Linked DNA regions of Homo sapiens. The protein of the gene in region 1 purifies or fractionates together with the protein of each later gene. This does not show direct contact. Each region holds a gene or a part of one and is shown in the gene's direction. Other genes may lie near its edges.

Region 1 (8,107 bases):
TTGTAGACTTTTTCAGTAACTATAGAGCTGGCCAGCCACACTGTCATCTTTCAATCAATGCAGAAAATGTTTATTATGCCCCTACTATGTGTCAGGGATTGTGGTGCCTGTAGAGTGATACTAAAATGAGTAGAACACAGTTCTTATCTTTACTGACCTTTCACTACAGTTAAGTGCTGATAGACACATAAACATGATGTAGATGTAAAGGCAGCAACATAAAATAGTGCTAAAAAGAACTCTAAGTTTCATACCATCAGGACCCAAAGGAAAAATAATGTTTTATTTTTATAAGGAGGAATAGGTTCAGAGAAAGATGATTTTACATGAACATATCTTCCCAAGTCCTGAGGTATGTTTCTTTGTGTAGAAGTTGGAGCAAGAGAGTAGCACAGGCATTCATGAGTACAGAAACCGCTCTAGCAAAGGCTCCAAAGGGTGGGTGTGTGTGGTTAACTGCAATGGCTTAAGGATTGGCCCAGGGGAGATGAGTGGTTAGATATAAAATAGGACTTGGTTTGAGGCATTTAAAAGTGAACTTAAAGTGCATTTTAAAGATCTATGGCATGATATGCCAGTGGTTCCCAAATGTTGATGCATATTATAATCACCTAGAAAGCTTGTTTGAAAACAGATTTCTAGTATTCACACTAGACCTTCTAAATCAAAACCTCTGGGGTGAGGCCTAAAAACATTTACTTTTAGCAAGATACCCTGGTGAATCTTATGTTATTTGTTGGTAAATGCAGGGTGGACAGGTGGAGGGGAGAAGTTTTGAAGTCAGAAAGCAAGTTGGTGGTTACTAAAATATTCTAGGAGGCAGAAGGCAGGGTCTGTGGAGTGACAGGAGCCATTAGACAGAAAGATAGGAAGATAAAATATATGATGAGGAGCATGCTTGTAATCCCAGCTACCTGGGAGGCTGCTGCAGGTGGATCACTTGAACTCAGGAGTTCAAGGCCAGCCTGGGCAGCCCATCATATATATTATATATATATATATGGTGAGGAGGTAGTTGATAGGACTTGGAGACTGAATGTTAACTTAAATGAATCATGCAGTTTTCAAAAATGTAATTCATTATTGATTCAAACCCATCTTGTACTTTTCCATGTGCTCTCCTATACTTTGGAGGAAGTGTATCAACAAGGGAGTTCCATTGCCTGTAAACAGGCTCAAAATATGTTCACTCCAAGTGCTATATAGTAAGGTGAACAGTAGATGGCACTTTTGTACTATGCTGAATTTCCAAATTTGAAGGCCAAGGAAGAACCAGTGCTAAAATAAAAATAACTCTTTATAATGCTCAAGTAAGTACATTCAATTTCTGTTTTAGGGGGAACTGTATAAGAAGGGCTAATTAGAGGTCAGTTTGTCCTAGCTAGTACCCGGCCTCCAGTAAAACCTTGTAGGTTTTTAAATACTGATCCTGCTTGTGGCTCCCACCCACATAAATGATTAGGTTGCAGTCCAGAGAGGTCTAAATAATCATTGTAGCAAGTGGAATTAGGCTTGAGGTTAGAAAAAACTTCCCCAACTTTGACCACATTTCCAATTGTCTACCTCTGAGCTTTTGCTATTTGCAAAGGTGAAGAAAAGCCGAAAAGAACAAAATCAAATACTATGGAAAAGAACAATGGGAAGGGCAGTTTAGAGTAATAAATGAGGACAGTGGAATGAAAATAAAGGAGATATTACTTTCATTTTGTAAAACTTATTATTATAAACCTTGGCAAGAATGCAATGTTTTATACATTTACATAACACTTGCAATCACACAAAAGTCATGACAGTGATTAAGAGAGTGGATTCTGGGCCAGGTGAGGTGGCTCACACCTGTAATCCCAGCACTTTGGGAGGCCGAGACAGGCGGATCACGAGGTTAGGATATTGAGACCATCCTGGCTAACACGGTGAAAACCAGTCTCTATTAAAAAAAAAATACAAAAAAAATTAGCCGGGCTTGGTGGCGGGCGCCTGTAGTCCCAGCTGCTCGGGAGGCTGAGGCAGGGGAATGGCGTGAACCTGGGAGGCGGAGCAGCTTGCAGTGAGCCGAGATCGCGCCACTGCATTCCAGTCTGGGCGACAGAGTGAGACTCCGTCTCAAAAAAAAAAAAAAAAAAGAGAGAGTGGATTCTGGAGGCAGACTGCGAGTGTCTAAAAATCTCAACTCTGCCACTTCCTAGTTAGCAGTGTGCCTTGGGCAAGTAACTTAATGTCTTTGCATATCAATTTACTCATCTATAAAACGGAAATGGTAATAATAGCACATCTCTAATAAGATCGTTATGATCACTAAATGTCAAAATTTGTAAGGTACTTAGAAAAGTCCTGGCATGTAGTGAAAACATAGGTAGGTATATTAGTCCGTTCTCACATTGCTATGAAGAACTACCTGCGACTGGGTAATTTACAAAAAAAGCGGGTTTAATTGGCTCATGGTTCTGCAGGCTGTACAGGAAGTATGGCTGGGGAGGCCACAGGAAACTTACAAACATGGTGGAAGGCAAAGGGGAAGAGAGCATGGCTGCTCCATGGCTGGAGCAGGAGGAAGAGAGCAAAGGGGGAAGTGCTACACACTTTTAAACAACCAGATCTCGTGATAACTCACTCAGAACAGCAAGGGAGAAATCCACCCCCATGATCCAATCACCTCCCACCAGCCCCCTCCTCCAACACTGGGGATTACAATTCTACATGACAGTTGGGTGGGGACACAAATCCAAACCATATCAGTAGGTGACAAATTTTTTAAGATCAACTTTAGGTAATAGGATTAATATGTAGTTTCCCTCCCATCTTTTAAATTTAAAACATGTGTTTCTTGATAATTGAGAAAAAAAGTAAAAGCTAAACTTTTACTAAAACACTTAAATAAAAATCTATATTTTTTCTTCTTGTGAGCTAGTTTCTAAATCTCCAACTTCTTCCCTTTTCTGCTTCTCCTGTGCCCAATATTAGACGTAACATACCTATGAGTAATCCTGAGGTCCTGATTACTCTTCAGCTTCTGGCATTATTATTTTATTATTGGGGTGAAATACCTGTAATGAAATTTACCATTTTACCCATTTTTTAGGTGTACAATTCACTGGCATTAAGTACATTCACAATGTTGTGCAAACATCACCACTATCTATTTCCAGAACTTCATCATCCCAAACAGAAACTCTGCACCCATTAAACAGTAACTCCCCAGTCTCCCTTACCCCCAGCCCTAGTAACCTCTATTCTACTTTCTGTCCTTATGAATTCACCTATTCTAGGTACCTCATATGAATGGAATCATACAATATATGCTCATTTGTGTTTGGCTTATTCACTTAGCAAAATGTTTTCAAGGTTCATCCATGTTATAGCTTGTATCACAATTTCATTTCTTTTTATGGCAGGATAATATTTCCTTATATGTATATATCACATACATTTTGTTTATCCATTCATCTGTTGGATACTAGGATTGTATCCACTTTTTGGCTATTGTAAATAATGCTTGCTTTGAACACTGGCATCTGTTGGAGTCTCTGCTTTCAATACTTATGGGATATACCTAGCAGTGAAATTGCTGGATTATAAGGTAATTGTATGTTTAACTTTTTAGGAACTGACAAACTTTTTCACAGAGCTACATCATTTTACATTCCCACCAGTATCCAGCATTAGTTTTAAACATGGCAGGCTTTTAAAATAAATCAAGCCTAAACTGGTAATATGTAGCAAAACTAAGAGTCCTGCAACAGTTTGCTGACAAGTTGCTGATATCAACACTCTTAACATATCATCTCCTAGACTAATGCAGTGTTTCTCAACATAGACAGCTGAGACTCCCATAGTAATCATCTATGGAGCTTGTTACATCAGAAGGGCCCTGGATCCCACCTTGTATATGTTGATTCAGCATCTCTGGAAATGGAGCCCCCAAATCAACATTACAAATGCTAAAGCATGAGACTCACCAACCCTAGATTGCTGAGTTCTTGAAGGTAGGGGAAATATCTTAGTCATCATTGTGTCCCTCAAGGCCAAACATACAACAGATATTTAACAAGTGTATACTTAAATTAACTAATACTGTAATCTAAAGCCTACCTGTTTAGTTGTTAAGTACCATATTCAATAAAATTAAACTCAATCACTAGACAACTAGGGAATCTGTAATTAAGGTGTGTAGCATACCTTTCATTTGCATAAAACACATGTCTTACCAGCTGTGTTCTATCATGCCCTTTGATGTTGCTAAGGATCTTTACACTATATGTAATTTTCAGCTCAGAACATCACGCTTTGAGGCAGGGTTAAAAAAAAAAAAAGGATATGGACTTGGAATTAGAAGAACTGTCTCTGTGTGACCTCTAAGACCAATATCTAGGAATCAAGTTTATAACTTGGAAACATTGAAAACATTTTGTAATTCTACCAACTTCATTGTTTGGCTGAAGCACAAATGATACTATGTGTAACAAAGCCTGCTGTAGAAACGTGGTCTCACAAAAAACAAACAAAAAAAACCATGTTTCCAAGTCTTCCTAAAGACTTTAAGTATCCAGCTGTGTAAGTTTAGTGCTCTAAGGTATACGCAAATAAGCAGATGAGAATGGAAACATATCGCAGAAAATTATTAAGTGCATGCACAACATTTATTCATTCATTCACTCATTCATTCATCACGCACATCCAGCAACTATATCAATATCCTGCAGGGCACTGTGTGGAAAACAGTGGTTAAATAAATTCAAATCTGCCCTCAGGGGATTTAGTTCCTTTTAGTATATTAATAACTAGCAAGCTGCCCCTCTTCATGTCAAAGCTTTACGTCAACAAAATAAGCGGTAGGGGATCACCTTAAACGTCACGGGTGCTGTCTCTTTAAAACGTAATAGAACTCTGATCGCATCGATCACAGGCTCACAACGCCCTTCCATTCATCGCTCTTATTCCAGTCCTGGTTACTACCCCACTTCCTGACATCAAACCAGGGAGAACGCGAGTGTTAGTTAACATGGCTTGGTGTGTGGCCACAGCTGACCCGGCGCATACCTCCCGTCCTCTCTTTACAGGGCTGGCGGTGTCTCGGGGCTCGGCTGGCCATGCCTGGAGCGCGGGGTTTGACTGGGCCGCCGTTGTTGTAGTGACCGGGAGGCGCTGCCGCTCTGGGCAGACGGTTCCGGGAGCCGCACGGTCCCCTCTCCTTCCCCATCCTCTCCCCTCCCCTCTCCGGGTTCCCCCACCCACAGGAGCCTTGGGCCGACCACTCCCCCGATGGCCTCAGCCACGGTAAGGACGGGTTGGAGGTGGGGGGGGTCCCTCCCTGGAGCCTGTCCCGCGGGCTGCGGGGCCAGGTCCGGGCCGAAGCCGCACCTGGAGGGAGATGGAGGCAGGTGTCCGTAGCCGGGTCCTGAGCCCCTCGTCCCGGGGCGTCCGTATCTCACTCTCTGCCATCGGGGCGGACGGAGTGCGGAACCCAGACCCGGCTCCCGGACGCTCTTCCCCGAGTTCCGGAGCTCCGGACTGAGCTGGGCGGCCCCACGGCCCCCAGAATTCTCGGAGGGTTTCCGTGGAGCGCCTGCGTCAGAATCACCTAGGAAGTATTAAAAAAAAAAAAAGTACCAAAGCCGAGGCGCATCCTCGCACCTGCCTGCCTTGGGCCAGCGGGCGGGGCCCGGGAACGTGCATTTCAAAGGGGCCGCGGTTCCTGCGATGCGCTGGACTCTGGGAAGCGCGAACAGAGCGTTTTGCGGGCTCTGCGGGGAGAGCTGGCGCCGGCGTCTCCCTGTAGCAGGACTGGGCGCCGCGCCCGTGGGTGGGCTGCTGCCCGGCCCCGCCGCCCAGCCAAGCCGCCGCCTGGGTGGCCATTCCCAAGCCGGACTCCGGGGAAGTGGCAGCGTGGATCCCAGCCGCCAGAATTCGAGGTCTGCGGCGGCTTTCAAAACTTGACAACTTTCCTTTCCAGGAGGACCCCGTTCTGGAGCGTTATTTCAAAGGCCACAAAGCTGCGATCACCTCCTTGGACCTCAGCCCCAACGGCAAGCAACTTGGTAAGTCTTATTCTTGTTTTGCTTTTGTAATGAGACTAAACTCCATGGGCCGGAAACCTTTCCTCCTGTCCGGGCAGGGTCCCTAGGAGAACGGCTAAGGGCCTGTATGAGGGTTGAGAGCACCCGGAGACGAGGGCCCAGCGCGGCGGGGCGCAGCTAGGGCCCCCTCTGCCATCCCGGCCCCCAGCCCCCGGCCCGGCCAAGAGCCTCCTATCCAGCGGTCTGGGCCTGGCGGACGACTTTCGCAAACTAACCACCAGGAGGAGTGAGTGGGAAGGGGAGGGGTTTCTCCTCGGCCCGGGGAGGGTGGGGTGTTGGCTGGAGAGTTTGTGAAAAGTTGTGAGCCGAGCAGGAGGAAGTAGGGAGAGAGGAGTTGGGCTGTGCCGGAGGCCGAGGACCGAGAGGGCTCAGGTGACCCCTGGAAAGCCTGGGTGGCTGGAAAGGAGCCTAGCGCCTGCATGAAAGGAAGAACCTGCTGGGAAGTACCTGAGCTCGAGCTGTGGGTTCCGCCGCCCTTCCCCTGCGTGGTGGCTTGGTGGCCGCGTCTGCGCCTCAGCCCTGAGAATCCGGATGGCGGTGAGGTGGACTTGGGCAGGCAAGAGCTGCCTGCTGCTGGCGTTTTTAACAGTGGCCTATATCTTCGTGGAGCTCTTGGTCTCTACTTTTCATGCCTCCGCAGGAGCCGGCCGTGCCAGGGAGCTGGGGTCAAGAAGGCTCTCAGACCTCCAGAAAAATACGGAGGATTTGTCTCGACCGCTTTATAAGAAGCCCCCTGCAGATTCCCGTGCACTTGGGGAGTGGGGGAAAGCCAGCAAACTCCAGCTCAACGAGGATGAACTGAAGCAGCAAGAAGAACTCATTGAGAGATACGCCATCAATATTTACCTCAGTGACAGGATTTCCCTGCATCGACACATAGAGGATAAAAGAATGTATGAGTGTAAGTCCCAGAAGTTCAACTATAGGACACTTCCTACCACCTCTGTTATCATTGCTTTCTATAACGAAGCCTGGTCGACTTTGCTCCGTACCATTCACAGTGTTTTAGAAACTTCTCCTGCAGTTCTTTTGAAAGAGATCATCTTGGTGGATGACTTGAGTGACAGAGTTTATTTGAAGACACAACTTGAAACTTACATCAGCAATCTTGATAGAGTACGCTTGATTAGGACCAATAAGCGAGAGGGGCTGGTTAGGGCCCGTCTGATTGGGGCCACTTTCGCCACTGGGGACGTCCTCACTTTCCTGGATTGTCACTGTGAGTGTAATTCCGGTTGGCTGGAACCGCTTTTGGAAAGGATTGGGAGAGATGAAACAGCAGTTGTGTGTCCTGTTATAGACACAATTGATTGGAATACTTTTGAATTCTATATGCAGATAGGGGAGCCCATGATTGGTGGGTTTGACTGGCGTTTAACATTTCAGTGGCATTCTGTCCCCAAACAGGAAAGGGACAGGCGGATATCAAGAATTGACCCCATCAGATCACCTACCATGGCTGGAGGACTGTTTGCTGTCAGCAAGAAATATTTTCAGTACCTTGGAACGTATGACACAGGAATGGAAGTGTGGGGAGGTGAAAACCTTGAGCTGTCTTTTAGGGTGTGGCAGTGTGGTGGCAAATTGGAGATCCACCCGTGTTCCCACGTGGGCCATGTGTTCCCCAAGCGGGCACCATATGCTCGCCCCAATTTCCTACAGAATACTGCTCGGGCAGCAGAAGTTTGGATGGATGAATACAAAGAGCACTTCTACAATAGAAACCCTCCAGCAAGAAAAGAAGCTTATGGTGATATTTCTGAAAGAAAATTACTACGAGAGCGGTTGAGATGCAAGAGCTTTGACTGGTATTTGAAAAACGTTTTTCCTAATTTACATGTTCCAGAGGATAGACCAGGCTGGCATGGGGCTATTCGCAGTAGAGGGATCTCGTCTGAATGTTTAGATTATAATTCTCCTGACAACAACCCCACAGGTGCTAACCTTTCACTGTTTGGATGCCATGGTCAAGGAGGCAATCAATTCTTTGAATATACTTCAAACAAAGAAATAAGGTTTAATTCTGTGACAGA
Region 2 (7,777 bases), on another chromosome or scaffold:
TTACCACAAGAATTTCAGGATGGTAGACTGGCTAGTGATGGGGGTCATTCAAAGAAAAGAGTGGGAGTAGGAAACTGACTCTGAAACTTTTAAAGATATTTCCAGTTAAATCTATTGCTAAAATATTGCCAGAAGAAAATAAGTTTAACTCAGTAGGAGAGTGGAAAGGGATTTGTAGTTGATAGGTCTATATGTCATTTTTACTTGTGCTCATATAATGAAAAACATGTTGATGATTTTTCCTTCTTCAACAGGTTGCTAATAATTTATACTGGAATCTGGCATTTTTCCAAGCCAAGAGAAGATCGAATGGCTTTTTGCAGCTAACTACTATGTGTAGACAGGTTTTATATTATAAAGTATGCATTCTTATCACCTAGTATATAGTTAGTTTGTAGAGTGATTTCCCCCCAGTTTCTTGAACATGGTATCTTCACATCTTGGACCTTGGTCAGTTGTGCTATTCATTATTAAACACTAAAACTTTGGCGGTTCTTGCATAACATTGTCAGATTTTTTAGTGTATTTCTGTGAAGTCATTTTTTTTCTTGTCATTCCTTTTGTAGTAGTTGCTGTTTGGATAAAAGTTGATGTGTGATTTTTTATTAAACAAATAGTAAACCCTTCAATTATAGTTAGTCTTGGTGAAGTAAGATGTTTGTAGACTTTAGAGTTCTTTAATTCTTGGCACAACGTGACTGTTGAGCTAACACCAAATAGTGTGTTGGCAATACTTTTCAAATGGCTGAAAACACCTAAAAATTGTTCATTCAGAAATATCTGTCACTGCTCTGTTGCCAAAACTCAGAATAGAACTTAGACGTATGTCTGAGTCCCTGAGATCACATGCTAAAGTCGATGAAAAGTAACCACTGCCACTGTCTTGTGTCAGAACTTTTACAGTACAGAAAATAACAGAATAGCCTTCTGTAATGAGGCGTTTGTTAGAGTTTTGCATGAGATTCTAATACTTCAGTAGGACCCTACCTACGTGGTTCATCTACAATGGTTACCATAAAAAATCTGGCAGGATTTTAAAACTCAATCAGTCTTTCCTTTGAGCTAGTGACTTGAAAAGAAAGAGAGAAGGAAAAGAGACCATATTAAGTCCATGCCAGTTGCTTGGCTAGAATATGATCAACGACTTGTAGTAGACTCAAGTTTTTAAAAAACACTATTTTACTTAAACTGTTTCTTATCTAAATTCTTGCAGAGTGTCAATGTTATCATTGATTATAGAAGACAGGGATAATACCTTTATCTCTGGCCACTCAAAAATGCAGTGCCAGGAGTGCTAAACCTAGAGGCCAATACTGATGACCTGGAAGGTGATCCATATGATTGTCACCACAAAGTGCTTTTACACAAAAACTTGAAAATTTGAAAAACATGATTTTTTTAAGTTTCTCATCTCACCAGTCTTGGTGTTTATATTGCAAATCTATCAAAGTAAGAAATAATTTGTGCTGTATACAAATTACATGGGGAACATAAAGGAGTGAGATCCTTCTGTGATAAAATGAATTCACCACTCTGGTTACCCAACTACAGAACCTCCTTTGATCAGGCCAGTAGGTTGTGATGCAGGCTGGAGCCCCCGAATGCCCCACACACACTGCAGCATTGACCAGACCATCCGAAACCTGCGTCCCTGGTGATGTTCTCAAGCCTCGGAAGTGGCAAATGGAAATGATATGGCCGGTTGCGGTTGTAGGAGAGTTGTGACTTAGGCAGGAGTCGACCTCCTCAAGTAATGGAACGATTTCAAAGGCAGGCTGCCCTGACCAAAAATATCTGCCATGAATAAAGGTGCCTGAAATCCTGCTATGAAGCTTCCTTTGTGTCAAAAATCTGTTTGGTTTTCAGATGGAAATGCAGAAATCACATTAGAGTATCAACTAAAACCTCTGGACGGATTAAGTACAAGTAGCCCAAGGCAAAGCAGGAGAGGGGGTGTTGGGGGAGGTTGCCTGCTGGAAGGGGAAGCTGAGGAGCGGGAGGAGGGCTTGCCAAGACTGGCATTGCAGGAGACTTGTCTCAGGTGTGTTCCCAGAACTCTTGCCCCTGGAGATGCTGCAGGAAGGAAGGGGTTATGGTCACTTGGGTTTAGACGACATTCTGTGAACCTCATGAAGAAATTAGCATATTAAAGACTCTGAAAGTAGAGCAGAGAACTCAGCTTTAACCTGCTCACCTGCTAGTTTTCGAGGTCTCGCTCTGTTGCCCAGGCTGGAGTGCAGTGGCACAGTCATAGCTCACTTGGAGCCTGAAGCTCCTGGGCTCAGGCAGTCCTCCTGCCTCAGCCTCCCAAGTAGCTAATATTACAGGTTCGTGCCACCGCACCTGGGTCTTGCTGTGTTGCCCAGGCTGGTCTAGAACTCCTAGGCTCAAGCAGTCCTGTCTCAGCCTCCCAAAGTGCTGGGATTACAGGCTGGAGCCACCATGCCTGTCCAAGGGTCTTTTTTATACTATATGAAGTATTCCTTCTCCAGCTATTCTTGTTCGTTTACCAGCCAGTGAAGATTCTCTTGAGGGCTGAACAATACAGATGAGTATGGGGGCCCTCGCACCAAGGAAAACAGCGTTACATTTAATTAAGTGCCCTGTCTCAAACCCCAAGGCCCCACAGCTTCTTCATTTGGCCCCTAGTTCATCCTGCTTTCCTTTGAGCCACAGGATTTTAAAATATTTCAATCTTATTTTCATATCAATTTTTTCTTTGTTTCACTACAAGTACAGTCATTGTTTAACCCTATCAGGACTAACACAATATTTCACGTAACTAAGAGTTAATTTGCCCTTGTGAGTCCTTGGAATTTAAGCCCCACACACACACACTTAGAGCACTGTTGCTATGGGAACATAGAGTCCTCCAAACAAAAGTGAACTTTTTCAACATGCTGTTTGTAAATGGAAGCCTTCCCAAGCAGACACTGTGTTCCTCTTTTATTTTGTATTTTGCACATTATATATTTTGATTAGATTAAAATGGAGGAATTTGCAGGATGTGTTGTCATATCTAGCCCTGAAAGTTAACTGGTTACAGTTACCAAATGTTCACAGCTAGCGCCATTGAAAGCATTGACTGTAAACCGCTGTACTGTGCTAAGCCTTTTGTTTGCACTGTTTGGCTTAATCCTCACAACAACACTGAGAGGTTTTCATTTGATGAGTCATATTTAAAGAAAAGGAACCCAAGACGGGGAGTCAGGGGCACAAGGTCACAGCTGGTAATGATGACCCTGGAATGTCCTCACAGCTGCACACCTGCACCGCTCACAAACACAGCTGACCGTCTCACAGCTGCACACCTGCACCGCTCACGAGCACAGCTGACCGTCTCACAGCTGCACACCTGCACTGCTCACGAACACAGCTGATCGTCTGCCTCTTCGTGTGAGCTGAGCTCCGAATCTCAGCTGTCCAGGCTGTCTGGAAATCATCAGCCCCACTGGCTGGATCTCAAAATTTACTTTCAAAAGGCTGATGGAGTGTTTTCAATTAAACATGACCTAAAATTAAGTAATAAACACACTGGATGTGAGTTTTTATTTGGAATTTAAACTATTCAGAGCTGGTAGAAAATGTGTGCTCCTGGATCAGTGCCTTTTTTCTCCTAAATCAGTTGAGAACAACAACAGAAACAAATGACATTCCTCAAACATTTGCCCAGAGCACAACCACGGGGAATATGAACCACAGGTTTTCACATTGGTTTTCCATGCCTATACCTGTCCTGTCTCCCACAAAAATTATTGCTTGAGGCCCAACCCGGGGGATAAAAAGACACCCCCCCGCCACTCCGTGACCTATTAGCTTACCATCCTATTGGATTTCACTGTTTTTTGTTTTGTGGTGTTTTTTTTTTATTGCAACGAAGACTTTTAAATGGACTCATGAAGAAGCCATCACCTGGAATCTTAATCTTGCATTAATTTTAAGTGTCTGATTTTAGCTGCAGCCACTTGAGAACTTTTCAATGAATGAAAATGAGGGAGGGGAGATGCAAGTCACTGCCCAAAAACAAAACCAGAGGAATTGTGATTGAACATTGCACTTATCAACCCTACAAATTAATATGGAAATAGGAAAAGGGTTTGTTTCAACAAGTCAGGATGACAGTATTTTAAAAAAGAAAAAAAGGCCAGCCTGGGCAATATACTGAGACTCCATCTCTACAAAAAAGTAGAAAAATTAGCCCAGAGTGTGGTGGCACACATCTGTGCTCCCAGCTACTCAGGAGGCTGAGGTGGGAGGATCATTTGAGCCCAGGAAGTCGAGGTTGCAGTGAGCTGTGATCGGACGACTCCACTCCAGCCGGGGTGACAGAGCAAGACCCTGTCTCAAAAAAAAAAAAAAAGGGCGGATCCTAACGCTTGGTCCTCACACCTGAGGCTCTCACTAAGAGGTGGCTGGAAGCTCCTCAGACCGCTGCCTAGGGTTCGAGTGATCCTGAAAGCTGTACAACATCAGCCTCTGTGGGATCCCTGAGAATGATGAAATGTAATATGTGGCTGTCTCATCAACAGAGCTTCATTTTACCAAAGCATATGTAGACACCACATACATGAACTACATACCTATCGTGTAGATGCTGCCCTGCCTCATAAGAACACTCTTGACTGTCCTGCTTCACAATAATAATCTTCGCAATAATGATCTAATAATGGTCAAATTCTGTGTCTCTACCGTAGAAAACAGAATTTGACCATTTAGTCACGTTGGTCTTGCAAAATGTCCACCTTCCAAAAGAGAACAGTATTGCTTCCCAATAATTAAGAATAGTCTGGATTCAGGATCCAGCAGCTTAGAAGCGTTTAGCTACCAATAGCAAAAATCAGCCCTTTTAACAATGGTGGGATGTATTATTTCACATGGCAAGAAGTCCCAAGGGAGGGCAGCTCTGGGGCGAGTAAATTCTGCACCTCAGTAAAACTAAGAGCAAGACCCGGCCGGGCGCAGTGGCTCATGCCTGTAATCCCAGCACTTTGGGAGGCCGAGGTGGGTGGATCACCTGAGGTCAGGAGTTCTAAACCAGCCTGGCCAACATGGCGAAACCCCCGTCTCTACTAAAAATACAAAAATTAGCCAGGCGTGGTGGTGGGCGCTTGTAATCCCAGTTGCTCGGGAGGCTGAGGGAGGAGGATCGCTTGAACTCAGGAGGTGGAAGTTGCAGTGAGCCGAGATCGTGCCACTGCACTCCAGCCTGGGTAACAGAGCGAGACTCCATCTCAAAAAATAAAAAACAAAAAAATAAATAAAAAATAAAAAGACCCAACCCCAGATTTGTTCCACCTGGGTGCATCCGGTCAGAGAATGCCTTTCTTCTTCCCTTTTGTCTCCTAAGAGTGAAGAAAATGTTTCTTTGAAGGTGTTTCCACCCCACTCCTGTGCCTAAAATGATCCTGGCAAACAGGACCCGCATGATAGGTTGAGCCATGTGGTTCTTGTTTTTTTGTTGTCACAACTCAGGTTGGGGGTGTTACTGGCATCAAGAGTGTAGAAACCAGGGATGCTGCGTCAACACCCTACCATGCACAGGACAACCCTCACCCCAAAGAGTGGCACAGCCCCAAGTGTCAACAGTGCTGAGGTTGAGGAATCCCAGCTTAACCCATTCATGAGACCACCTGAGCCTGGTGTAACGGTTCTGCTGATAGTTTCCGGACCCTCAGAGGTGGAGACATAAGAGAACAATACCAGGGTTCCATCAGAAAGGAAATCAGAATGGCTATCGGGTGGACAACCTACAGTGTTTGCTACAGACCTTCTAGATGTAACTTCTAGATTATAAACACTGGTAACACTGGAGATGGTTAAATCGGAATTAGCTGACTGTCAACCTTGGTGGCACATTAGAATCACCTGGGGAGCAGTTCAAAGGCCCAAAACTGGGCAGCACCACAGAACCCTCACATCAGAATCCCCATGGGTGGGCCCAGACAGCAGTGTTCATCTTAGACTCCAGTGTGCAGTCGAGGTCGAGAACTGCATTCAAGAAGGCCTGTCTACTGCGAACCGTCCGATGATGTAATTCACCAAGTTCCATGGGATTCCGCCACGCCCGTGTCAACCCAGCTGACACGTCCAACTTGGACAATCAGGGCTTTGACCCCCGTTACCTGGCATTCAATTCAATCCATGTGTCACGCATGCCCCAACAATTTGTGTCCCAACTGTTTGAATCAAAGGATTTCTGATTCCCTGATGGGTGATGACTCAGTAACCGGATTCAGCTTCAGATCTGCCTGACATTTTTCCTGCCTGTCCTGGGCCAGGTATGGCGCTAGCTGCTTTCACCTGTATCATCTCATTCACTGCTCAGAGGCTCTCGAAAGCTGTTGACATTATCAAAAAGTTTTCCAGCTGGAATTCATCTCCCTCTAATCAGCCTTCAAAACCTCCATTTGTAAACCATTGCTGTAGTTTTATTACCTCTTACCTTGGTCTTTACAAGTTGCTGTCAAAACCCAGTAAGTGTTTACAGAAAGAAACTTTACATATTAAATATCTTAAAGGTCTTTTATGCAGAATATGCAGTTAATTTTGATGGGCTATGGATAATCATCAGAAGAGCCATTTCTGGAAATGTAAATAATATGGCTGTTTCTTTTAACAGTGCATTCTCCTGAAAACATAAGACCATTTGACTGATTCTGCTCCAGAATCTTATTGAGGCAAAGGACTGGACCGAATTATTCATGGAACAGAAGCCTAGGACTGGTAAGTCCAGGAAATGCTGCAAAACAATGCCCTCAAAAGAAATCAGCCTTTCCCTTTGATAGGTATCTCTCCTGCAAGCCAGGCTCAGGTGCGCCTCAATTAGAACCTGTGTTCGCTGGGGCCATAATTAAGAATCTTAAAGGGAAAGAATGTTTTGAAAGCCATCTGTCAAAAGTACGCAGTCTTGCTTGTAGAATTTTAGAGGTTCATGGTTACCGTGGGTCGGCACTGGGTCTGTGAGCCCTCATCCCCAGGGCTCGGTTTCCTATCAGAATCCTTGTCTGGAAGGTTGATTATATCAGATGCGCATTTTGCCAGCATCCTCAGAAGGAGATGCGAGGAAGATTCTTTTCCTGGGCCACTCTCATTTTCTCAAACTTGGACAAGTCTTAACAATAATCTGTGACCCAACTTTGTCTTCCCCATGATGAAAAACAGACCCCATAGAAACTCTCTGGCACAAAAACTCTGGAATCACTGACCCCAGACATTGTTCCCTGCCATCCACTCTGCCAGACATTTCTTGGATTTATTCAAGCTGACTTGTATTCCAGAACAATTGTGGACAAGATTTGCTAGTAATGCTTCCAACAAGTTACCGTTTAGCAAGTTCAGAACTTGAAGAATCCCTTTTATCCTAACGCTGACTAATAAACTGGTGAGAACTGTTTGAAATACCCATAAGTCAATGGAGGTCGTAATTTGCTTTTATGCTGTATTAAACACCACTGAGATGTTAAGGTCTTTCTTGGGAACCACCGTGATGTTCTCTTCTGGACTCTTCGTAACCCCTTCAGCAGACGACCCTGTATCTGGTCTTGGTTCTGAAAGGTTTGCAGCGGCACCTAAGTCACTGAAGTTCTGGCAGAATTCATTCTCCTGCTCTCTACTGGGACTTGTTTTCCATAATTGGTCTGAGAACAACAGATTTTTTTCTTTTTTGCCTCGGATTTCAACAAAACATACATGGAAAGAATATTTTCTTCCTTGGAGACATTTCCCATAGGGCAGTGGTTCTTAAAATACGTTCCTGAACCGGCAGCATCAGAATCCC
Region 3 (7,777 bases), on another chromosome or scaffold:
ATAACAGAGTAACTTAGCGGCTTACAATAACAGAAATTATTCTCTCACAGTCCTGGATAATTGAAATCAGAACCAGAAGTCTCAAGTCAAGGTGTTGGCAGGGCCTTGCTCTTCTGAAGGCTCCAGGAAGTCTGTCCTTGCCTCTTCTAGCCTCTGCTGGGTGTCTGCAATCCTTTGTGTTCTTTGGCTTGTGGCAGCAGAACTCCAGTCTCTGTCTCAACACATGGCCATCTTCTCCCTATGTATCTGTCTTACCGTGCCCTTCCTGTGAGGACACCAGTCGTTGAAGTTAGGGCCCACCCTAATCCAGTTTGACCTCATCTTAACTTGGTAACATCTTCAGAGATACTATTTCTAGATAAGGTCACATTCATAGGTACTAGGAGTTGGGACTTTAACATATCATTTTGAGAGACATAATTCAGCCCACAACAGAGAGCTTTGAACAGAGGGATTGTGATTCAGCTTCTTTTGTAAAAGGCTCCCTGGGCTGCTGTGTGGAGAAGGGACTCTAGGATGGAAGTCCTTTTTATGTGGTTTCTCTGTTCCAGTATCTGGCACTGTCACCCTGAAGTGGCAGCGCCAGCTTTCAGTTATCTAGCTACCTAAACTTTGTGCTGATTGTGACTTTCTCCTCTCCCTAATAAGTATTTTTATTGCTTAGCAACTTCTTCGTAGGTTGCCTAGGGAAGTCAAGTTACTCTGGTAATAGACTGCATGATGGAGCTGGAATTATTGGTAAAATGACATCAGCAAAAAGCTGATTTGGTTTTGCTTTAAATTGATAGCTCCATGCTGTGCTTACCCAGCTGAGAATTCAGCAATACCCTCAACTTGCCCTAGGCTGCATTTTGCCATTGTTCTAGGCAGGGACAACATGGGAATAGGCAAGCTTATATACTGGAGAATTTGTGTGCGACGCATAGCTGTGTAGCACTCTCAGTGATGAAGATAACACTTATTCCTCATAGCTTCCCTTTTCTTCCGTAAAGATTGGCAGATCAGAAGGGAGATTTTGAAGCTTGAAAGAACTATTTGGTGGCCTTTCCATCAAATTTAAATAAAGCTCATAAGACACATGTTAAGGAGCTGTTTGAAAGCCTTTTTGAATTGCCATCAGCTTGGGCGGCCCTTCCTCATCGTTTTGTCAGCTGCTAGACTGATTCATCCCGCCAGATTCTTTGCCAATTGAATAGAGGCCTGGATGACCTAGGCCCCCAAAACCACAGAGACCCAATTGTTTGGTCCTTCCTGTACCAGTGACTCTCACATTTTTTTCATTCTCTCTAAAAGGAAAACTTTTAAATGTTTATGGATCATGAAGGCTCTATGGGGTAGTTCATGAATGCAGACTGTAATTGTAGGGGTAGAGGAGTGTCCAGTCCAGGAAACAACCCTGCATATTATGAAGGCTTTCAGTTTAGGGTCTTTAAACAATAGGATGATTGCTCATCAACCTGGTCGTACCCTGACTTCCAGGGTCCTTGGGTGCAACATCCGGAGCTAGTCCAGAGTACCGCCAATGGCCTTGTCACACATACACAGCAAATGTGCAAAGACAGCCAGAGCACAGGTCTGCCTGGAGAGGATTTCAGTGGGCAGAAAGCCCTTCAGAGTCATTTCATATTGAAGTTTAATTTCTGGGACTGGATAAGTTCCCTTTCTCCCAAAATTATTGATTGTTTTGTTCCTGGTAAAGATAGTCTTTCATACTTTTGTGGTTCCAAGACATGGTTGGACCGCAGTTATAAATTATATAAGACTAAATCATTCTGGAAGAATGATTTACGAGGAGTTAGTCAGGAGTTGGAGTTGAAATATGTAAACATTCTGGCTTCCTGGTACATAATGGCCCTCAAACGTGTGGGCTACATTTACCATACCCATGGCTCCTGTGCTGACTTCTGTATAGTTCTTTGAACTCAGGGAAACATCTAAGACTATTTTGAAATGACTTTTCTTATACTGGAACTGCTTTAGGAACTTGCAGTATCTAAACTCTATAATGACTCTTCCTAAGAGTTGTATGCCAGGAGTTAAGTGGCGGATAAGGTTGTAGATTTTTTTTGAAGCCACATATAGAAGCAGGTTTTAGGCTTACTGGTAAAATAAAACTCTAGCTAAAGATATTTCCTGGAAATAACCAGACTGGTAGCTGTAAAGCTTGGGCTGGTCTGTATTTGCTATCTGTCTGTTTTCTCCCACTAAAGTTGTTTAATGCTGCTGCTGTTGTGGTGGTCTTTCTCTTTGCTGGGAAATATATTGGTGAAGAAACATCCTCTAGGAATGGACTTTTGAGGAGGTACAATCTCAAGTTCATCCTCTGTTTTGTTTTGCTTTGAGACAGGATCTATGTCTAGACTGGAGTGCAGTAGTATGATCATAGCTTACTGCAGCCTCCAACTCCTGGGCTCAGATGATCCTCCTGCCTCAGCCTCCTGAGTAGCTGGGACTATAGGCACACACTACCATGCCTGGCTAATTTTTTGTTTTGTTTTGTTTTTTGAGATAGAGTCTCGCTCTGTTGCCCTGGCTGAAATGCAGTGGTGCGATCTCGGCTCACTGCAAGCTCCGCCTCCTGGGTTCACGCCATTCTTCTGCCTCAGCCTCCCAAGTAGCTAGGACCACAGGCGCCCACCACTACGCCCAGCTAATTTTTTGTATTTTTAGTAGAGACGGGGTTTCACCGTGTTAGCCAGGATGGTCTCGATCTCCTGACCTCGTGATCCGCCCGCCTTGGCCTCCCAAAGTGCTGGGATTACAGGCGTGAGCCACCACGCCTGGCCAGTTTTTTTATTTTTTGTAGAGATAGGGTCTTGCTATGTTGCCTAGGCTGATCTCGAACTCCTGGCCTAAAGGGATTCTCCTGCCTCACCCTCCCAAAGTCCTGGGATTACAGGCGTGAGCTACCATGCCTGGCTTTTGTGTTTGCATGTGTGTTTATGGAGGACTTAGGGGTTGTGGCTTTGTGTAGCTGTTTCAGTCACAAAAACTGCAGTGGGTGCCCTCTGCCCCTTGAGTTTCTCCTTCACCAACATAGCCCCCCTTCCCCAAACACACACACCTTTATCTACAGATTGTTACCTCTCTCTGAGAAAGAGAATCTTAATTAGTGTAGAAGCTCTCACATCACCCTTGGAACAACTCGTTAAACCTCTCCAGTTTGATGTGTTAATTAAATGCCTAGGTATTTCAAACACAAACTGTAGTTCTCTGGACTTTTCCCCAGAATAGAAGAAAAGAGATAAATGGGATCTGTGCACAGATATTTACTGCCTCAGGCCTGTGAGGGAATGCCAAGTTGTTTGTTGACACAATTTTGGTAGTCTCGATCAGAATCAGCAAACTGTGACTCATAGACCAAGCCCTGCCTGTCCTGTTTTTTTGCATGGCCCTGAACAGAAGAATGAGTTTTACATTTTTTGATGGTTTAATGGTGATGTGTGAAAATAATGTGAAATCCAAATTTCAGGGCCCATCAATGGTCACACGATTATGTGAATTTACTAAAAACCATTGCATCATATATTTTAAAGGGTGGACTGTATGGTTTGTGAATTATATCTCAATAAAGTAGTTCTTAAAAAAAAACAAAACAAAATTTCAGGGCCCATCAAGTTATATATATATGAAATATATATTTTGGTAGATATGGGGTCTTGCTATGTTGCCCAGGCTGATCTTGAGCTCCAGGGCTCAAGTAAGTGATCCTCCCACCTCAGCCTCCCAAAATGCTGGGATTTCAGGTTTGAACCACCACTGTCATCCCCATAAATAAAGTTATTGGAATACAGCCATACTCATTCATTCATGTATTGTCTATGGCTGCTTTTGCTCTACAATAGCTGGGTTGAGTACTTGGAACAGAGACCAAATGTCTGGCAAAAGTCTAACATATTTACTATCTTGTACAGAAAAAAAATGTCAACCTACATCTATACTTATTACAATTTCAGTAAAAATACAGAGTTTAAGTAATTTGGGAAAATGGCTTTAAGAATGAAAAGGTGCAAGGTTATACCTGCTGAACAAATGAACTGTGGGCGTGAGGTGCCATTAGTCTAGGCCTGCATGTTCAGGGAAGGCCCAGGGGAGAGCCTGATGTGGCCTGGCTATTTGTCATATTTGCAAAGGGGAAGTGATGTAATTGGTCTGCAATGAACTTGATTTTCAATTGACTCAAAGATCTAAGGAGGAATAAAAATTATTTAAAAAGGAAATTAGGGAAGAATGGGGAGAATATTGGAATCATTTAATAGAAGTACAAACACATAGACTTTTAACTTTTGCCCATTAAATTTTTTTTAACATTTTATTTTCTTAAATTTTTTTTAAAAAAATAGTGATGGGGTTTCACTGTGTTGCCCAGGCTGGTCTCGAACTCCTGGGCTCAAGTGATCCTCCCACCTTGGCCTCCCAAAGTGTTGGGGTTACAGGCATGAGCCAGCCTCACCCAACCCATTAAATGTCTTTAATGTAACTTCGGGTGTATGAGAATTTGTAAGTTGACTGTGCAGATCTCTTAAAAGGTTGATATGGTGTATTTTTAGAATGTTTTAGACTGCACGTGTGTGTGTGTTTGTTTGTGTGTGTGTGTGTGTGCGTGCTATAGAAAACACAGCATGGAAACCTTGTTAAAATCAGAGGCTTTGATTTTTTATTCTAAAGCTTTGAGTTATATGTTTAATCAGATACTATGTGAAAAATTTTCATTAGGTACATATTGAAGTGTTCCATTCAAGTCTACAAGTATATCCTCCTAAGGATTTAGTTTAACATCCTTTCCCTGCTCCAACAAGGGAATGCTTTATTAGAGTTTCCTAGAAATAATGGGACTAATTAGGACCTTTCATATTACCTAGTCCAGCAGTCCAACCCATGTGGCTCCTTCAACAGCATCGCAGCCTAATGCTTTTAATTTAATTTTAAATTTTTAATGTTTTGCTGTGATTGCCTCTTCCACAGTTTGATTTTTTTGTACTGTATAATTCCATGTTAAGGTATTTAAAGCTTGAAAATCTTAGCATGATATAGCTACTTTGTTTTTTCATGTATTTTTAGCTCTGAAGTTGGAGATTCCAACCAGCTAATAAATGAGATCAGAGTCATGTGTTTTTTTGTTGTTGTTGCTCTATCACAATGTAAATGTGCCCCTAGGAAGCACCTGCTTCTATATGGTGCCTTACCCAAGGGAGTGTCTTCCTGGGGAAAAAAGTGTAGTTTTTCCAGCAGAAACTTGTGAGAGTGCAGAACCACAGAGGAGCAACAGTGTCTGAATAAAAAATTCCAGGGCAGGGAAGCAAAGTCTACCTGCAGAAAGGAAAGATTTTAGTAACTATCAAATCACAATTTTTCTTTTAAGATGAGTGACAAAATCAAGACCTTGCACTCCCCCATTTTGGGCTTACCCAAGCATCGAATAAAGCAGTAGAACTTACTTTGGTACTTGCGGGTGGCAGAGACACTTTCTACCTGTGTATGTGTTTTGGGAGCCGGCAGTCCTTCTAAAATTATATTGCTGCCATGTAATGTCCCACCTACAAAATGGATGTGGCCTAAAGCCATTTAAACATTTAAATGAAAGAGCAGTTGCAGTGTCTTTTTCAGGTTACCAGTTATACTGCCCAGAGGAAATCTTGGAGGGTATAAACCATTTTGTCACACTCTCCTAAATCCAGAGTAGCGATGGGAGATAATGGTTTATCCACCCAAAACAACCCTCTCAGTGGAGATTTCATAACCAAGGTTGCTAAATTGCCTGGTGACTATTAAATCTGGGCTTAGAAAGGCTTTGCTACTTGTGAGTTCAAGATCTCACCCTCACCTTTGCATGTACATGACCTAATTTTATGAGTTCAAACAAACATGATTAGATCCCCAGGGTTTAGATTGATGATGGCCAGACTCACAAGGGAATAATAATAATGGCATGGAGTATTTTATTAATTCACAAATGAAAAATGTATCTTGACAGTTTGGCAGATGCAGATACTCTCCTAGCCAGTCGAGGACCCTCTTTCTTATATCATAGCTGGAAATATGACAATAAATGATTGATCTCCAGCTTTCCCATTACAATATTCCCACCTAGCAGATCACCAGCTATCTGTTTCAGCCGTATTTATTTATTAGATGTGTTGGGAACAAGTAATCTTTGTTTGCAGCATCTTGTTTGATTTTTATGACCATGATTCTGCGAGATAGGACACAAGTGATTTCCATTTCACAGATTGGGAAATTGAGGCCAGAGCCTTTACTGCTAGTAGTGGACCTGGGTTTTGAATTCAGCTTTTAAGATTGCAGATCCAGAGCTCTTTGGAACATATTATACAGCTTTTCTCTCCAGGAAATTTGTGAATCCCTCTCTGTTGTTCACTATCTGAAGAGAAGACATATCAGAGGAAATAAAGGGTCTTAAAATGTTGCCAGAGCAGGGTGTGTGATGGGGGAAAGCATCGTCTTAAGTATCCTGTCATGTGATAGTAGTTTAAAAAATCAAAAAATACATCTTCCACATGTGTGAACTTGGCACATATTATTCTGAAGTATGAAATGTATTTTAGGAAGTTGAAACATCAGAAGTTTGGAAGCTTGCAGCATGATTTAGATATAAATTAATAGTCAAGCAAAAATCATCACTGGATAAGTGCAGTGGGATTGAAAACATTTTGCTTCCTCAATGCCTAGCTTCAGCTCATCAGTGAAAAATAAAGAAGGAGTAGACAAATTCAGTACTAGCCTTTGCATTCTGTCTCCACCTGAGTCATGCATGGTTGAGAAGAGGCAGGTGTGTGGAGGTGTGTGCGGCTGCCAGGGGCTCTGCGCCTGTTTTATGGTAGATAGAGGAGTTTTTAAGAGGCCTTTGTTGGTGATCTCTGGCTGCATAACAAATTACTCCAAAACTGAAAACAACGAACATCTCACATAGTCTTTGTAGTTGGGAAATTTGGGAGCTGGGTGGTGTGGCTCAGGTCACTTTTGAGAATGCTGTCAAGATGTCGGCTGGGACTGCAGTTGTTTAAAGACTTGACTGAGGCTCAAGAATCCTCTCCTAAGGCGGCTTACTCATTTGCCTGGGCTGTGAGTGCTGGCTGTTGGTGGGAGGCTGCAGTCCTCACCATGTGGACCACTGCTGGGTTGCTTGAGTATCCTCACAGCATGGCAGCTGGCTGCCCCAGAGTGAGTGATCCAAGAGCAAGCAAGATAGAAACTGCAGAGTCTTCTGTGACTTAGCCTCAAAAGTCACACTTATTTCCACAGTATCCTTTTGGTTACACAGGTCAGTCCAAGGGCATGTGTACCAGGAGGTGAGACATATAGGGGCCGTCTTGGAGGCTGGCTACCACAAAGCCCTTTTCCACTTTTTAAAAAACTTGCATGAAAGGATATACAAGGGTATACATTCTTAGATGGCAAAGCTTTTCCCATTGCTTTCTTCCTTTGGCGTCTCTTCACTATGCCCTTCCTAACCCCACTCCTTCTTGCTGCCCTCTTTCTTAAACAGGAGCAGAACTGGCTGAAGAAATTATATAGCCGCCTATTGGCTTGTGGTCCTGCCATGGATGTGTCTCATGCACCCAGCATGCTGGCTGAGATTGCTCTGTCTGGAGGCCCCTCTCTTGCTGAACATTCCTCCCTCTTCTTCTTTATCCAGCATCAGCTTCTCAGCTCCATGTGGGTGGTTGCTACTTTGTGAGAGAGGCAGTTGGTATTTTGAATTTTCCAGTAATTATTTCTGAAGAGATGCACATTATGGTTGTTTGGCAGCAACAGATTG

Evidence for each region. Proteins that work in one complex are often made in the same cells at the same time.
Region 2: the proteins of POC1B (region 1) and HSBP1 purify together in Homo sapiens (affinity purification with mass spectrometry; 2 studies listed by BioGRID and IntAct, with this or other methods). This does not show direct contact.
Region 3: the proteins of POC1B (region 1) and TACC1 purify together in Homo sapiens (affinity purification with mass spectrometry; 2 studies listed by BioGRID and IntAct, with this or other methods). This does not show direct contact.

The regions. Positions count from the first base shown.
Region 1 is NC_000012.12:89,523,048-89,531,154, reverse strand, and holds the start of POC1B (POC1 centriolar protein homolog B), read left to right. Parts: upstream 1-5,259; coding exon 5,260-5,274; intron 5,275-5,358; exon of another isoform or gene 5,359-5,585; intron 5,586-5,724; exon of another isoform or gene 5,725-5,950; coding exon 5,951-6,035; intron 6,036-6,358; exon of another isoform or gene 6,359-6,605; coding exon of another isoform or gene 6,606-8,107. Other genes in the region: GALNT4 (polypeptide N-acetylgalactosaminyltransferase 4), read left to right, coding at 6,606-8,107; POC1B-GALNT4 protein, read left to right, coding at 5,260-5,274, 5,951-6,035, 6,715-8,107; POC1B-DUSP6 readthrough, read left to right, coding at 5,260-5,274, 5,951-6,035.
Region 2 is NC_000016.10:83,811,167-83,818,943, forward strand, and holds part of HSBP1 (heat shock factor-binding protein 1), read left to right. Parts: intron 1-254; 3' UTR 255-7,777. UniProt on the Homo sapiens protein: Negative regulator of the heat shock response. Negatively affects HSF1 DNA-binding activity. May have a role in the suppression of the activation of the stress response during the aging process.
Region 3 is NC_000008.11:38,789,979-38,797,755, forward strand, and holds part of TACC1 (transforming acidic coiled-coil-containing protein 1), read left to right. Parts: intron 1-7,777. UniProt on the Homo sapiens protein: Involved in transcription regulation induced by nuclear receptors, including in T3 thyroid hormone and all-trans retinoic acid pathways. Might promote the nuclear localization of the receptors.